Linked DNA regions of Homo sapiens: region 1 is linked to region 2. Evidence: fine-mapped expression QTL. Tissue or cell type: thyroid. Region 2 holds a variant in brackets; the other region holds the start of a gene. All regions are shown on one strand. Distances are between the middles of the regions.

What was found. PIP is the estimated chance that this variant, and not a neighbour inherited with it, causes the effect.
Region 1: TENT5A starts here. The variant in region 2 is fine-mapped to the expression of TENT5A in thyroid (GTEx, PIP 0.99).

The regions. Positions count from the first base shown.
Region 1 is chr6:81,748,461-81,756,567 of GRCh38, reverse strand. It overlaps TENT5A (terminal nucleotidyltransferase 5A), which reads left to right and starts at 3,887. Exons shown (of 3, transcript NM_017633.3): 1 at 3,887-4,137; 2 at 4,390-4,978; 3 at 6,097-8,107. The coding sequence starts at 4,427. The coding sequence ends at 6,873. RefSeq lists enhancers at 2,816-2,865, 3,726-4,226 and a silencer at 3,686-3,815.
Region 2 is chr6:82,012,658-82,020,764 of GRCh38, reverse strand. All of the region lies in intron 3 of LINC02542 (long intergenic non-protein coding RNA 2542), which reads left to right. It overlaps LOC107986617 (a long non-coding RNA gene), which reads right to left and starts at 3,161. Exons shown (of 4, transcript XR_001744231.2): 1 at 2,723-3,161; 2 at 2,575-2,627. RefSeq lists an enhancer at 3,079-3,373. The variant A/G (reference allele first, on the strand shown) is at 4,896.

The DNA.
Region 1 (8,107 bases), 260 kb after region 2:
ATAATGTGTACAGCTCTGGTTTTTAGAGAAAGTTTAGAAAAAATAATGTATATAAAATATTTAGCAGAGTTTCTGGGATATAATAACAAACTCAATAATAATAACTATCATTAAGGCCGAAGCTGAACATCTTATTTTGCTAAGTCCAGATTGATTGTTACTGTAACTTTAAAAATAAGATGAACTAATTATAAGTGTTTCTTTCTCAAAATTCTATGCAAAGCTTTCCTTTAAAACTTTCAGGATAAGGACTTTTTTTCTGCTCGCTTAGAAAGCAGTTTAAATTTAGGCTGTCCGTATTTCAGTTTTGTGGTGGTCTTAACTTTATCAACTAAGAGCTTCATATTGCCACAGGTGTTTTTTTTTTTCCTTTTAAGTGGGAGAAAGTAAATAATTTATCAAATAGGTTCAGAAGCTAAAGCCTGGGGGAAAAATTTAGCAACTTTGCATCTAAATTTAATCTAAGAGTAACTGTGTTGAGAAATATCTTAGTTGTGAATGTATTTGGAAAGTATAGGCGTTCTCATTTCATAATTATTTTGGTTATCTAGAAAAAAATTATGGTTTCAATAGCAGAATATGCAATTTTATTTAAGGATGGATATTTTTTCCTAGAATGTAAATATTATTTCAGTTTGAAGACAGGAAAAAGTGGGACAGTGAACAACATATGCTTTCATTCAACAGTATGTAATGATTGGTCACTATGTATCAGGCACATATTAATCCAGTCAAAGATTAAATTGCCCACAAAGGCATTGCCAAAAGTAAGATATCCCAGATGTCCCAATGCAGGAGGCAGTAGGGTCTGGATTATGGTTGGGAAAGGGGGAATGTTTTGTTAAAGGTTTAAGGAAGTGTCAGCCACAAAGCATTGGATGCTTGGGGGAGAGGCGGTCTTGGCACACTGCTGCTGGGATTATCTTCTTCTCCCCAGCACAGCATATAGCACGTAAGCGGGCCCTGCAAGTCCAGCTTCATGCTGTGCTTCCACCTCTCAGTTGTGCCCTCCATTTCTGGGAATGGCCATGGGATCAGCCTTTGCTTGGGGGAGGGTCCCCACTTAGAGAACTGGACTATGGTGGCTGTTCTCAGTGCAGCGCAAAGTGTGGCTGGGCCCTTGTGTCAGGATCACCATGACAGCTTGCCAAAATGCAGATTCCTTTGGTGCTACAGAACGAAATCCTGGGTATGCATAGGCAGGTGTCCATCAGCTCTAAGAGTCTTCTTTATTTTCAGTTTTTGGAGCAAGGGTAAAAATAAAGTACAAAATAATTGTAGTAGAGCTAAACACACACACATGCACACACCCTTGGTTTTTAAAGTACAGCGTGTCTAATATACGATCTATTACTTTGGCTTTGTTTTAAGAAGGGGCAGAATTCATACCGGTCTTTGAAAGAAACATTTTTAACAGGTCTTTTTTCTTTTCTTTTTCTTTTCTCTTCTCTTTTCTTCTTTACTCTTCTCTTCCCCCCCTTTTCTTTTCTTTTTCCCTTCCCTTCCCCTCCCTTCCTCCATTTCCTTTTCTTCTTTTCCCCCTCCCCTTCCCTCCCCTCCCCATCGTTCCTTCTTCCTATTTGTGCTTGTCTTGTTTTCCAATAAGAAGGTACTGATAAGCTACAGACCACTCGTTACCCCGTAATGACCACTAAACAGCATTCACAGCCAAATGGGTTGGGTTAAAGGCCTGACCCCACAACTTATTAGTTGTGGAACTTGGGAATGTTTCTTAACTTCTTGGATTCCTCTGTTTCTAGATCCCTAGGAGATGGAAATACCTTCTTCTTGAAGATTAAATTAGGTATTATGTTAAGGAGCTAAACAGGTTATAGCCCAGACGTGTTCAATAAGTTCCTGGTACTCATAAACCTTATCTCAAGGCACTACCAATCTCATTTATTAATCACGGGAGTGTACATATCCTTCCTCAAACATTCTCCAACTCCATACGCTTCCCTTTGTAGATAACGCTCTTCTCCTCTTTCCCCGACTACTGAAAGAACATCCATTCTTTCAAGATCCAGTCCAAATGACACCTTCTCGGGTGTCTCTCCGTTTCCTATGTAGTTAGCCCGCCACGCGATTGCGTCAGAATATACTTCTCTCATAATACATATGCAACTGAACCATAATTATGCACCTAGGTGCTATGCCCTCTAGATTACGTGAAATGTCATTCTTAAATCTTCAGCACTTAGCCTGTTGCCTGGCACGTAACAGGTCACTAAATGCTCTCTCTATACACATGCTCACACAAGAATATGCATATGTATATATATGTATAAAATGCCTGGTTAAGATAGATTCATGCGCCGATGGCTGGTCAGAGGAACACATGGGTGTGCTCTGAAGGAAGCGATGGCCCTATGCGGACAGGGTAGTTGTCCTAGAGTCCCCAGGCGCACCTCAGTGCTTAGGCGCAGCGCTGAGGGGATGGCCTCTGCCACAGAGACAGTCGGATTTCTCCATTTTGGGACGCAGCTCGGCAGGGCACCGGGAGGGGGCGGCGTTGTCACGCAGCTGGATGCTCCACGGGTGACACCCCCGCACCCTACCCCTCACCCCCGAGCCGCGCAGCTTGAGTGACTAGGCCGGGGCTCCCCCAGTTAGGAGGTGCGGGCTGTTTTTCCTCCCAGTCTGGGCGGGCAGGGCTGAGCAGGGTTTGGGGAGTATTCTGTGACCCTGGCATTCTCCCCTCTGCCCCACCTCAGCCCCCGGCAGCGTCTAGGCGCTGGGAAAGCTGCTCCGGGTTAGTTGATGGAGGCAGCGAGCTGCCGAAGAGACGGCCACAGCTTTCTAGCAAAGAGTGGTGGTGGCGCGAGTGAGCGTGCGTAGAATTAGCTCTGCCGAAGTCACCGAAGCTGGAGGAGAGAATTCATTTTATTCTTGAAACTCCTACTTTTACGTCTCGTGGAAAACCAAATCGTATTCCACTGACACTATGATGCACTTAAAATGGCCAAACTTTAGGGGGCCGCGAGGAACGCGCTTCGCCGCCTCCAATTTTGTCAGAGAACTCGCAGCAAAGGCACCGGACACCTAGCGGCCCTTTCCCTGGACTCCGGGGCAGCACGCACTCCCCGGGCGCGCTCTCTGCGCCCACTCGGCCCGCCCAGTCCTCGGCCATTGGCTGCTCGCCCGCGTCTGCTCCGTGACGCGCCCTGACCCCCGCGAAGTACTGGCCCCTTGGAGCCACTCGTGCGCAGGAGCCGCGCACGCCCGAGGCCCGTGGTGCCGCCCCCGCGCCTTCTCGGGCTCGCCCAGAGCTCCCCGGCGCGCTTCCCGAGGTTTCGAGAATCGAAACCCAGTTATCAACAAGCCCTTCCCACTCACGCGCCGTGACTGATTTGCGTGCAAGAGTGGACTCATGAGTCCACACTTGGATCGGGTTTATCAATGGAGTAAATGGTCTACCTAAAAACCGAGGTTTAAAAGAGCGGTCGTGAGGAACCTCCGGAGCCCAACCGTGATGATCTAAAGACGGGCTGAGTCCGCGAGAATTTTGGGAAGTTTCTGCAGTTGCAGGATTTTAGTCGTGATCTGGTTTTGATGACCACTTATGATTCCTGGGGCATTTAAAGTGTCTCCTCCTGGGGAAAATGAAAAGAGATTTGTGGGAGGGGGCGTACATAAATTAAATGTATGTATAAATACACGCATCTACGGGCGCACACAGTATCCGCACATACAGCCCAGGACCTCACGCTCACCGGCAGTCGTCCCGCACTAACTGCTGGGCTAGTCAGCTGCGTGCCCTGCGGGCGGGGGAGGGCAGAGGGGGCGGCGCCCTATGCAGATGAGGAGGGTGTGGCGAACGTGCCGCTCTGGGCCCCGGAAGCGCAGAGAAGCCCGGTATAAAAAAAGTACTGAAGACATTTTCCCCGCACAACTGCTAAAGCTCCAGAGACACGAGCGTGTGTGGCAGCAAGAGCCGCCAGTTCGGGACCACCGCAGCTGGGGTGGCAGCGGCGCAGGAGGGGTCGCGGGGAGGGAGTGGTGAGCGCAGGCGGCAGGGGTCTGGGAAAGACGAAGTCGCTATTTGCTGTCTGAGCGCGCTCGCAGCTCCTGGAAGTGTTGCCGCCTCTCGGTTTCGCTCTCGCTCGCTGCGCTCCTAGAAGGGGCGGCCGCCTCCAGGTGACACAGACGGGACTCTCGCTTGCGCTTTCCAGATGCATCAGAGATACTTTTGGTGCGGGGCTGCTCTGCGGGGCGCGGTGCGCGGCTGGGGACTGTAAGGGCCGGGGGAGGGAGTCTCCGAGGAGGCCCGGGGTCAGGGAACTATCGGGGGAGGGGGCGCTCTTTTCCTGGCGGGCCTCTGCTCTCCGCCGCCGCGCGTGCTCTCCGCCGCCGCGCGTCCTCACCGCGCTCCTTTCCCTTTCTTTTTAGGACTGACCAGGGCCAAGTGGCGCTCGGCGGGCACTACATGGCGGAGGGTGAAGGGTACTTCGCCATGTCTGAGGACGAGCTGGCCTGCAGCCCCTACATCCCCCTAGGCGGCGACTTCGGCGGCGGCGACTTCGGCGGCGGCGACTTCGGCGGCGGCGACTTCGGCGGTGGCGGCAGCTTCGGTGGGCATTGCTTGGACTATTGCGAAAGCCCTACGGCGCACTGCAATGTGCTGAACTGGGAGCAAGTGCAGCGGCTGGACGGCATCCTGAGCGAGACCATTCCGATTCACGGGCGCGGCAACTTCCCCACGCTCGAGCTGCAGCCGAGCCTGATCGTGAAGGTGGTGCGGCGGCGCCTGGCCGAGAAGCGCATTGGCGTCCGCGACGTGCGCCTCAACGGCTCGGCAGCCAGCCATGTCCTGCACCAGGACAGCGGCCTGGGCTACAAGGACCTGGACCTCATCTTCTGCGCCGACCTGCGCGGGGAAGGGGAGTTTCAGACTGTGAAGGACGTCGTGCTGGACTGCCTGTTGGACTTCTTACCCGAGGGGGTGAACAAAGAGAAGATCACACCACTCACGCTCAAGGTAACACCACCCGAGATGCACTTGGGTCCTGACCCAGTCTGGGCCGGGTGTGACGGGGAGCGGGCAGAGGGGCATCGGTTAAATGCCATGAATCTGTGGCCATCACGAGTTTGGGCGCGCGTTATTTCTTTGATTTTTGATTTTTTAAACCAGTAAACTGACGTGCGTGGACGGTGTTGAGTGTTTCAGTTTACTTGATGCTTTGGCGCTACAACTCTTCTCCCAGGTCCTCCTCTGCCCTCTCTTCTCTTCTTTCTCCTTATGTTTTAACTCTTGGCTTTCCCTGTTGGAGTCTTGTCCAGAGTAGATTCTGATACTTGGCAGAATGAAATGATGTAAATAATTTTTGAGTCATTATATTTGAGTCTAGCCTTTGGGAAAATAACAGCCTGAAGCAGAAGTGAGTCAATGAGTTTTTTATTGTACTGGAAAAGGTGAATAGATTTCACAGCGGCATTCAGCTGACTACGTGTTAAAGGTCTATCTGGTGGTTCTTCGTGCTGGTTCATATGTTAAGGGTATAGTGGCACCCCCTCCCCACCCTCCACTTTAGTTCAAGACGGGTTTTATATGATTAGTTAAAATTGTCTGAGGAGGCAGGCTCCTGGAATGTCATAATTTAGTTTATATTTGATTGTAACTGCAGGGTGCCCCTGGAGGGACACACAAGATACTGATAACATTGATTGCCGCAGGCGGAGAGGAATTGGGTGGCTTGGAACAAGGGCGAGAGGCTGACTAACCTACCGCTGAATGCCCTTCCGAGTCTTTTGAATGTTGTTTGGATACTGTGTGAATATTGTGCCTATTAGACCGTTTTCAAAAAGTAACACTTAAAAAGTCAGACATGACAACAAAACCTCTTACTACTGTGCTACGTCTGCCAAAAGCCTCAAACTATTACCTCTAGTCCCTTTCCCAGACAGTAAAACTACTCGTTAAAAGTATTTTTTTTCTATTTTCAGAAGACCGTTTAAGCCTGTAGGTAGTGTTTGGCTGAAACTTGACAAAACAAAAGGGAAAGAGCAAAATAATTCTCAGCTGTGAAGAGGATGTATTTATTTATTGATTTATTATTTTCTAGGTTTGCTCATTTTGTTTTATCTTTTAAATTGTAGGAAGCTTATGTGCAGAAAATGGTTAAAGTGTGCAATGACTCTGACCGATGGAGTCTTATATCCCTGTCAAACAACAGTGGCAAAAATGTGGAACTGAAATTTGTGGATTCCCTCCGGAGGCAGTTTGAATTCAGTGTAGATTCTTTTCAAATCAAATTAGACTCTCTTCTGCTCTTTTATGAATGTTCAGAGAACCCAATGACTGAGACATTTCACCCCACAATAATCGGGGAGAGCGTCTATGGCGATTTCCAGGAAGCCTTTGATCACCTTTGTAACAAGATCATTGCCACCAGGAACCCAGAGGAAATCCGAGGGGGAGGCCTGCTTAAGTACTGCAACCTCTTGGTGAGGGGCTTTAGGCCCGCCTCTGATGAAATCAAGACCCTTCAAAGGTATATGTGTTCCAGGTTTTTCATCGACTTCTCAGACATTGGAGAGCAGCAGAGAAAACTGGAGTCCTATTTGCAGAACCACTTTGTGGGATTGGAAGACCGCAAGTATGAGTATCTCATGACCCTTCATGGAGTGGTAAATGAGAGCACAGTGTGCCTGATGGGACATGAAAGAAGACAGACTTTAAACCTTATCACCATGCTGGCTATCCGGGTGTTAGCTGACCAAAATGTCATTCCTAATGTGGCTAATGTCACTTGCTATTACCAGCCAGCCCCCTATGTAGCAGATGCCAACTTTAGCAATTACTACATTGCACAGGTTCAGCCAGTATTCACGTGCCAGCAACAGACCTACTCCACTTGGCTACCCTGCAATTAAGAATCATTTAAAAATGTCCTGTGGGGAAGCCATTTCAGACAAGACAGGAGAGAAAAAAAAAAAAAAGAAAAAAAAAAGAGTGATCCAGCCCTTATTAGGGATGTGTTTTGTGCAATGATGATATGCTCCTGGTTTTAAGTTTGGCAAAGCTTATGTATCTTTTAATAGATGTGGGAGCATGATCTCGAAAGGATCCTTTTCCCTTCTCTTATTCTCCTACCCAATTGGATTCTATCCTGCAAAAAAAGAGAGACCTGTCATTAGAAGCAACCAGGTTCTCCTGATACAAGAGAAGAAATGTGTGATGACAATATGGGTTTGCTGTATCTGCTCCCATAGCTTTGCCATAGGAAAAAAAAAAGTGGAAAGTTTCTTTTAAGATGGAATTCATAAAAGGGAAAATACGGAGGAAAAAAGGTCTCACTCCAACTTGTGAATCAGTTTAGGAGTTCAGATATTAATAGTAACAATACAGGAAAAAGGGGAACTCCAACGTTGGGATTACTGTCTGAGGCTTGTAGCAAGTGCTTTCTGTGGAATGATCTTGTTTTGCTAACAAACGGCTTGCTCCAAATGAACAGTAGTAGGTTGGTGCAGTTCTCGTAACAATCAGCAGAACTTATGATGACACAATCCATTAATTCCAGCTGCGTGCATAGATCACATTTTTAAAATGTAAAAATGCAAGCAAAAACAGCTGTAACAAAGAAAGTGTGCTCAAGGACCAAAGATTTAACAGATAAAAATACCCAATTAGAAGAGATATAGTAGACTATATGAAGAGAGATTATATTTGTTACACACCAATATACATCAAAGTGCCTGTTGCCTTCTGAAAATTTGAAGTGGCAAAATTATTTTATGGTTTAATGATTATTTTATTTTATCAGGGACTGCCTCAAGAAGAAAATAACATAAGCTTGTGAATGGTGGAGAAAATGCCCTATTTTTTCTTGCAAATACTTGTATAAAGTTAACATTTGTTGATCTGATATTATCATAGGTACATGTGTATGTGTGTATAAATTATATGTGTGTGTGTATATATACATTTTATATATACATTTTATATGTATATATACACAGTAGATTGACTATGATCTAGAATAATGTCTCAAATAGGAAATGTTTAAATACTGTGTGTTTTTATGTTTTCAACAGGATAACATGAGACGTGGGCATATTGCAATGATGAATTAAATCCACATCTAAAAAAATTAAATGAAGGAGGGAA
Region 2 (8,107 bases):
GGACTTTTCTATCTTCCTAACTAAACATGGTATATCCGTTATCCAGCATAGTGTCTAGCATGTCTGGTGTCTGATGCACAATAATATTTTTGATAATTCACCAATGCATAGGAGGAAATTTATTACTGTCTGGATGAGTCAGAAATTGTCTCCCAGAAGAGAAAAGATTTGGGTTGGATTTTGAAGGACAAATATGAGCTTGTCAGCTTGAAAAAGAGATAGGCATTCAGGAAAACAGACCAGCACAGTCAAAGACAAAATCATTATAGGTTATGTTTAAGAAAAAGATCAAGTAAGAAGTTCATGGTGGCTGAAGCAGAGTTTGTATGTGTATAGAGTGGGTGTACTGAGGTGCAGAGAATGGTCTGGGAGTGGGTTTATGTAGAAGATGTACAGTTGGAGACAGATAGTGAAGGAGATTTTTGTTATATAATAATTTTAGACTATTTTCTGTAAAGGTGACAGGCACCACAAACAGTTACAGGAAGGAGATTGGTATGTTCAGATTATACCAATTCATTCATTTATTTTAGGAGCATAATTATGGGAGCAATGTGGAAGATGGAATAAACAGGAGAGAAACAAGAACAGAAAAATAAGCTATTTTCTAGTTGTGATACCTGCAGCTATAAAGGAAAGGCTGCAATCAGGGAATAGTCCTGAGGTAGAATAGACAGGATTTGCTAGCTTGTTAATAAGGTGGACGGTGACAAAATGAACAGAGATTATGAATATGGAAGGAGAAACATATTTGGAAAAGAGAATAATTGATTTGATGTGCTCAAAGGCAATACAGTGGGTTAGGAAATTGGCAATATACTTGTGGATCCCAGGAGAGAGGTCCAGGCTGGAGATACAGATTGAGGGGTACAGTTGCCAGCTTTTAGACTGATGGAAGCAATGGGAAGCTCATGAAGAGGCTTGAAACTTAACATGGAAATGAAAGTCAGATACTAGAGAATGCTAACATTTAAAATATCTAAACAGAATAAAAAGCCAATGAAGCTGGTAGAGAAGGGGCAATCATAGGCGCAAAAAAATTTAAGAAGTAGAAAGCAGTTGATAGAAGTCACGAAAGACTAAATGTTGGTCATTAATATCTAGAAATATAGTAATAACAAACCCTGCATTCTTTTCATAGTCTTTAGCATGGTCAACATTGATGCTACATCAATGAAGTCAATACCTAGGTAAATATTTTCCAGCACTAGTGGACTTTCTTTCCTATTTTTCTTTGGTTAGAAACTATTCTCCTGTTCTTCTCTGTCAAAAGTAGAAAACTTACAGCTCATTGTGAAAAATATCTTTGACTGATAGGAACTTCACATTGTGTTTGTTTTAGGGGCATTTCATAGGAATCATTTATTTCCAGAGATAAGTATTTAAAACTGAAATTTTGGCTTTAAATCTGATTTGGAAGCCATTGATATGGGAAGACCATGGTCTTCCGGCATCCTTAAATGTTTAATTCAATAGTTGGCTCCTGATTTTAGAAGGGCGATTGACCTAGGGTAGAGCTAGAGGAGAACTACTAGGATAATCCTAGTAGCCATTGAAGGACAAAACCTTAAGCCATGTTATAGTTTGAAAGATCCAGGATTGTAAACATGAGATGATACCTAACAGATAGCTGAGGGTGTTAAGTAGAGAAAGGACTGAATTTACTCTGTGGCACCTTAAAAGAGAACCGTGAAAGAGGGGTGACATGCTAAAGGGAGGCTGATTGTGTTTCTTATGTTGGACTGTCAGTTTCTTGAGAGTAGGATGTTTTATCATCTAACTCCGTCACTGGGCAATGCTTGACAGATAAAGAAAGTTTTAATATCTGTCTGTTGTACTAGTAAATTGAACCACTCAAATAATTAATTAATTAATCATTCATCCTGCAAGCTCATGAGTTGCCTGTATTAGAACTATTTGAACAGAAGTTAGATTTATCCTTAAAAGAGTGCGTTAGACTCCATGCGTGGGGGAGGGCTGTATTGGAGGACTTTGATGAATTCCTTCTCCACTTTGCTATAGTCGTATGCAATGACACTTGTGATGGCTGGAAACTTGAACTTCAAACATGCGCTGTCTGCAAGTGTTAAGGGGTAAGAAGAAGGAAATGATAAGAAAATGATGAGTTTTGTAGAGATCTGGCATTCATATTGCCCACCTGTAACTCAGGCATTCGACACACAAAAACTCACCATCACACAAGTAAGTTTAAGAAAATAACCACAGAACGTGCTGAGTCTCTTGGATGCCCCTGACTTGTATCCTTCACTTGAATGCACCCAACCTTATTCCTGGAATGTGCTTTTTTTCTGTGTCCCAAATGAGAACAGATTAGTTGGGTAAGAACATATCTCAGACCTTTAGCGTGGCTCAGAGAAACACTGGCATAGTTGATTCAGGAACTAGGAGCTATGTCTTGGGTGCATTAAAAAACAAAAACAAAAAACTATAAATACCTAAAGAAAAGTCTGATGGTTTTGCTGTTCAGTTTTGGCAGAGTTGAAATTAGCTGTAAGGAATCTGGAAATGTGATAATTTGGAAGATAATGAAGTCTCAAGATGCTCAGGACTTACCTGTCAAGGTGCTGACATCTTTGGAATTCTATCTTCAGTGCCATTTCCAAGTTCTAAAGAGAATATAGGCAAGAGTTCAAGCTGAATCTTATTCTTGTCCCTGACCTCCAGAAAATTACTAGTATACTAAAAATAAAATTTCTATTACCATGGTAGTCATAAGAGACAGTAGCGAATGGTTGAAAGCATGGGTTCTGGCGGTTGCCAAACTAGATTTGACTGGGGGCCCAGCTTTGTGATTTTTGGCAAGTTGCTTATCCGCTCTCCAAACTTTAAATTCTTCATCTGTTAAAATGAAAATACTAATACCTACATCATAGGGTTGCCTTTGAGAGTAGAATTAATTATTATTAATTCTATACAATGGAATTAACTTATAAACTGATTCTTCAACACAGAATATTTTTGGAGCACTCAATATGGTAATTTTCATGTGGATTGGATAGATTAATCATACCCAGAATGGGCAGAAATATTTTGCAATGCTCACAGGGGAGACTGAGAAATCCCAAATCAAATCTAAAAACTTTACAATGGCATGAGATTCCTGCTTGCTCTGTCCCCTTCTCCTGTTGCCTATTGAAATGACTGGGAGAGCTGTTAAGCAAGTGCTTAACTCCTCAGGGATTGATGAGTCAGAGTCAGCAAAGAGGACTCTGCTAAGCCTCTGTGACCCTGAGCCCTCCCTTCTCCCAGGTTATGACTGATTCTTGCCCAGTTTTGCATTATTTCACCATGGAGACAAATGTTCTAAAGAGGGAAGGAGGATTTGCTGGGCTTGTTTATTGCTGTAATAACATCTGTCAGGTGTTAAGCAACTACCTTCTCTCCAGCTGCCCCCTTTCCTCCTGTTCCTTTGAATAAGCCTAGATAGTTACCCCAAATACCATTTCTACTGTAGATAGGAGAGTTGCCTCCAAGATTGGTCCTTGGTTGCCAGCTGTGAAAATACTGCCACATCTCCAGTGACACACTATTGTGCAGTGTTTATAACCTGGGGTTAGGCATCAGACTCAACAAGGTTTCCATCTCAGCTCTAGTTACCAACTTAACTTCTCTTACTTTCAGTTTCTCATCCATAAAATAGGATAATAATAGCTTATATTTGATGAAATTAGAGGAGATTATGGCTTTGTAGTAACCATTTCACGTATGTTAGCTTCTAAGATCATTATTATTAAAAATGTTCTCTGGAGCTTTAAATTTATTTTTGGAACTACTTATTCTGGATTCCAAACAGCCCTGGTAGGAGTATAAACTCTGAAAACTACTGGCTCAGGCTCCTGGCTATCTCCAGATTTATGTACATGCCTCTCTTAGTAGGCAAAGTGTCTGGCCAAACTATTGATTGAATGACTCTGTATCAATTATCTTTTGTTGCAGTTATTATTCCTGATGAGACTGTTGGCTAGCTAGATAGTTTTGGGTTCTGCTTATCTGATCTTTGCTTAGTTCTGCTGAGCTCAACGATGCATCTTATGTCTGCTGTTGGGTCAGTTAGAAACAGGCTGATATAGAATAGTGTCACTCACATGGCTGGCTATCAGTTTGGGTGATATGGAGGATGGGACTGTGTATTTCTTCTCATCCAGCAGGCTAGCCTAGGCTTATTTTCATGCTAGAAATTGGGTTCTGAGACAAGAGAGAGGTAAAGCATGCAAGGTTTCTTGATTGTACCCCATCATATTGCATTCTGTTGGCCAAAGCAAGTCACAAAAGCGAGCCCAGGCATAAGAAGCATGAAAATAGACCTCAACTAGCAAAGGACGGATATGCAAAGGCATATTGCAAAGGGTATGGATACAGGGAGTTGTGAACACATAGGGCCATCAGTTTACCATGTACTCACCGTAAAGTAATCATTAGCCCTGGGCATCAATATTCTTGACTCAATAACTGGAACATAAAACTGAACTATTAATCCACTATATTCCATTCAATGTGTTGAAATTGTTGCCTTCTTTCAGTGTTTCAACAACCATTTTCCCAGTGTAGGTGCAAAGGAAGATGAACATAGTATTCTGAATAGGTCAGAGTTTCTGCTCTTTCCTTCTTTTCCACTCTTCCTTTTCACCCACAATCCTGCCTACTACTGAATGTTCTTTGAACTCAGTGATCTTCTCTATTCTGCAGAGTGTAAATCAAGTGTAGAAATAGGTAGGGCAAAAATATGAGAGTAGAATTTAAACTTCTAGAAGTTCTTTCTTCCACATTTGCTCTTGGAATCACTGCATAGTCAAAGTAATGCACAGTTGTCACTTGCCATTCAGTTTTGAGAAATGAGTCTCTCTTTTTCTTATTTCCCTCTCATGCCTATTGCC[A/G]ATATTTATTTTTCACCATGGAATGGTTGTTGTGAAATTTTTCCTACACTGAGTACTTTTTAAGTTTTTTTATAGCACATAGACCCACTATGGCTAGCATCTCATGGCTCACTTCCCATTAGACATTTGTGAACATGGTCTTTGGATGGTACTTAAGTTTTCTGGAGTGGCAGCGTAAACAGGAATGGAAATTCAGAACAAAGCATCAGAAGGAAATGCTGTGACGTGGGGCATGATGTTCAAGGACCAGTGAAACAAAGGCAAAAACACACAAAGAGTGACCCTGGAATGATTGATTTCATCAACAAGTATGAACCTCAGAGAATTAAGATTACAAAGTGCCATGAAAAGCCAGAAGTGTGATGCCTTTGTGCACCCAAAGACTTTACAATCTGGTTGTTAAGGCAGATCCTGATAGAAAAATATACAATGATATAAGAAGATCATTAAGGGCAGAATTGAGAGGGGTGGTCTGTAAAGAACAAAGTATTATAAGGATGGCTTGGAGTGGCCGAGAAAGGTTGACAGACTCTGGTAAACTGAAAACCCAGGTTATTTCTGAACTGACTCAGAATGGCTGTGTCACCAAAAAAAGGACAAAGGAGTCAAGGAGACTATGTGTACTTCCTTAATTATTTTTATGGTTTGCTGATTCATAGACTGATTGAGCTGCAGGGTTGGAGGGGACTGTAGCTGTCATCTAGCAAAGCTGCTTTCTTGCCATCCAATGTTGGAAAATATTGGAAGCCTTCTTCCACCGTCCTTTCCTTCAGTCCTTGAGTAGATCAGCAGTGCTTCAAACCTTACTGTATGGAATATTGACTTTCTGTGTCTCTGCTGACACACCCTGAAATGGGTAGAACTTAAGGCTCCTTGGAAGAAGACAGTTCATTTCCTGAGTCAGCACAGACCCATCACCTCAGCCTCAAAGCTCTCATTTTATATCTGAATCAAAGGGTGTCCTAAACATGGAACACAGCCCTTCCCTTCCTTTTTTTCCCCGTCAAAGTGAAAAATGGCTGGGTAGGAGCTCTAATTATGTGGAACATGCTGGACACTCTTTTCATGTCCAAGTAAATTGGTGTAACCACTGTCCTTGAAGCAATGAGGTGATGCTGTGGTAACCACAGAGATGGGCTGGTATGCTCACAGTAGCAACAAAATCTAGTATTTGCACAGTGTTTTATAATTGTAACGAGTATTTACATATATTATTTGAATCTTGTTAAATTCAGTACCCTAGACCTGATAACTATTATTATCATAGGCTCTCATTTTTTGAATCTGTAAACTGAGGCTTAGAGAAGTATAACTTGACTTAAATAAGTTAGTAATCAAAACCTAGAACCGAGATTTTTTTTCTCAACTCTCAATTCAGTGCTATTTTTACTACACTGTGATTATTTTTTCTTAATAGTTCATCCCATGATTTTTATTTGTTTGGTAACTTACTGTCTGTAAAAACTCCCCCAAAATAAATTAATGTCATTGGTCTTCATATTTTTCTTAAGAAAACTGGAAAGACTCCAAAGATTTGTCCCCTGTGATCCATTTTGGAACTTTAAGATGAACAAAATAGATCTATGGGAAGAAAAAAATAATATTTTAAAATTTAAGCAATTTTCTTTCTGTCTACTCTAAAAATATGAGTCTATTGCTTGTTAATGCTGACAACATCCCAGTGAGGTAAGGAGGTCAGGAACACTATTATCTCTCTGTTTTTAAAAGCGGGTACACAGAGAGGAAATAACTTGCCCAAGGACATGGTGACTCAGTCAGAAGAGGAGCCAGGATGAAAACAGCCCTCATTTTTTGACTTTCAATACAACCAAGACCCTGATCCAGATGGGTTACGGGATTATGGCCCTTCACAAATAAGTGCATATTAGTCAGATGTGGAAATAATTATGTCCCTTTCACATTCTGAACAGAAAGTGAACTCTCAAATATATTGGCAAAGGGGAAGCCAAGATTCTCCAAGACTTTTTCTTTCCTTCTTTTTATTTTTAAGTCACAGATGGCTAGTCTGAAAATGAGGGAAAAAAAACAACCTTTCCTTGTCTTTTCTCTTAGGCCTGGCCTCACATAACACCCCCTACCACACCCCTGTGGGAAGAAGGATTACACTTTCCACTATTCCCTAGAGTAGATTTTGTTCTTTTAAAATAAACAAACACTTGAAAACTTTTTTTCTTCTAATATTAGCTTTGGTCTTGAACCAGAATTGATTTGGCATGGAGTAACTAGAAAGGATGAATAGTATTCTCCATGAGCAGTAGAGGAGATTCTCTTTCCACAGAGCCTTTTAGAATCATCATTCAATATGATGAACCCAAAATGAGACTAATTTTGACCAAGAGAAATAATGACATGAGATAACCACTCATCATCCCTGTTGGCTGGGATTACCTAATGATGCCAAGTGGGGTGGCTGCCTACATTCCTATTTTCCCCACACCAGAATGACCATGTACCCTGGGTCTGGTTGTATAATAATAAATTATCCTTTTTTTTTTTAACTCAAGGAAGGATTGCCTTTTTCAATTCACACAAAGATTCTTCACAGTGTCTGGTAGAGGCCCTGATCCAGTCCTTCCTAGTGGCTCTATTCCTCTACTCCCAAATTAAACCTGCTTTCTCATATGCTGGCAAAGTTGGATTACATGGCAGGTTAGTTACTTGCTGAAATGACTCTTTGGTATTTGATCCTTTTTCTGCAACATGTATATAGTTTTCTTACAGATAATGGGTCTATAACTTTATAAGATTATAAAAATAAGATCATATTTGTAGGATAAACATTTAGAATTAGAACCAGTGTGGTGATGGAATCCTCTTTATCTAGTTATCTAGGAAATACAACCTTGGAGAGAAACTATGAATGGGTAAGTGGAGATGTGAACAGCCCTGTTTTGGTCTGCTAAAACTATCATAACAAAATACCACAGCCTGGGTGGCTTAAACAACAGATTTTATTCCTAACGTTTTGAGAGTCTCAGGAGCCCAGGATCAAGATGTTGGCAAAGTAGGTTTTATCCTGAGGCCTCTTCTCTTAGTGGCTGCTTTCTGGCTGTGTACTCACAGAACCTCTTTGTGAGCTTGTGAAGAGGGAGAGAGCTCCTTGGTGTCTCTTATAAGGACACTAATCCTATTGGAACAGGGCTCCACACTTATGACCTCATTTAACCTGAATTACTTCTGTAGAGGCCTCA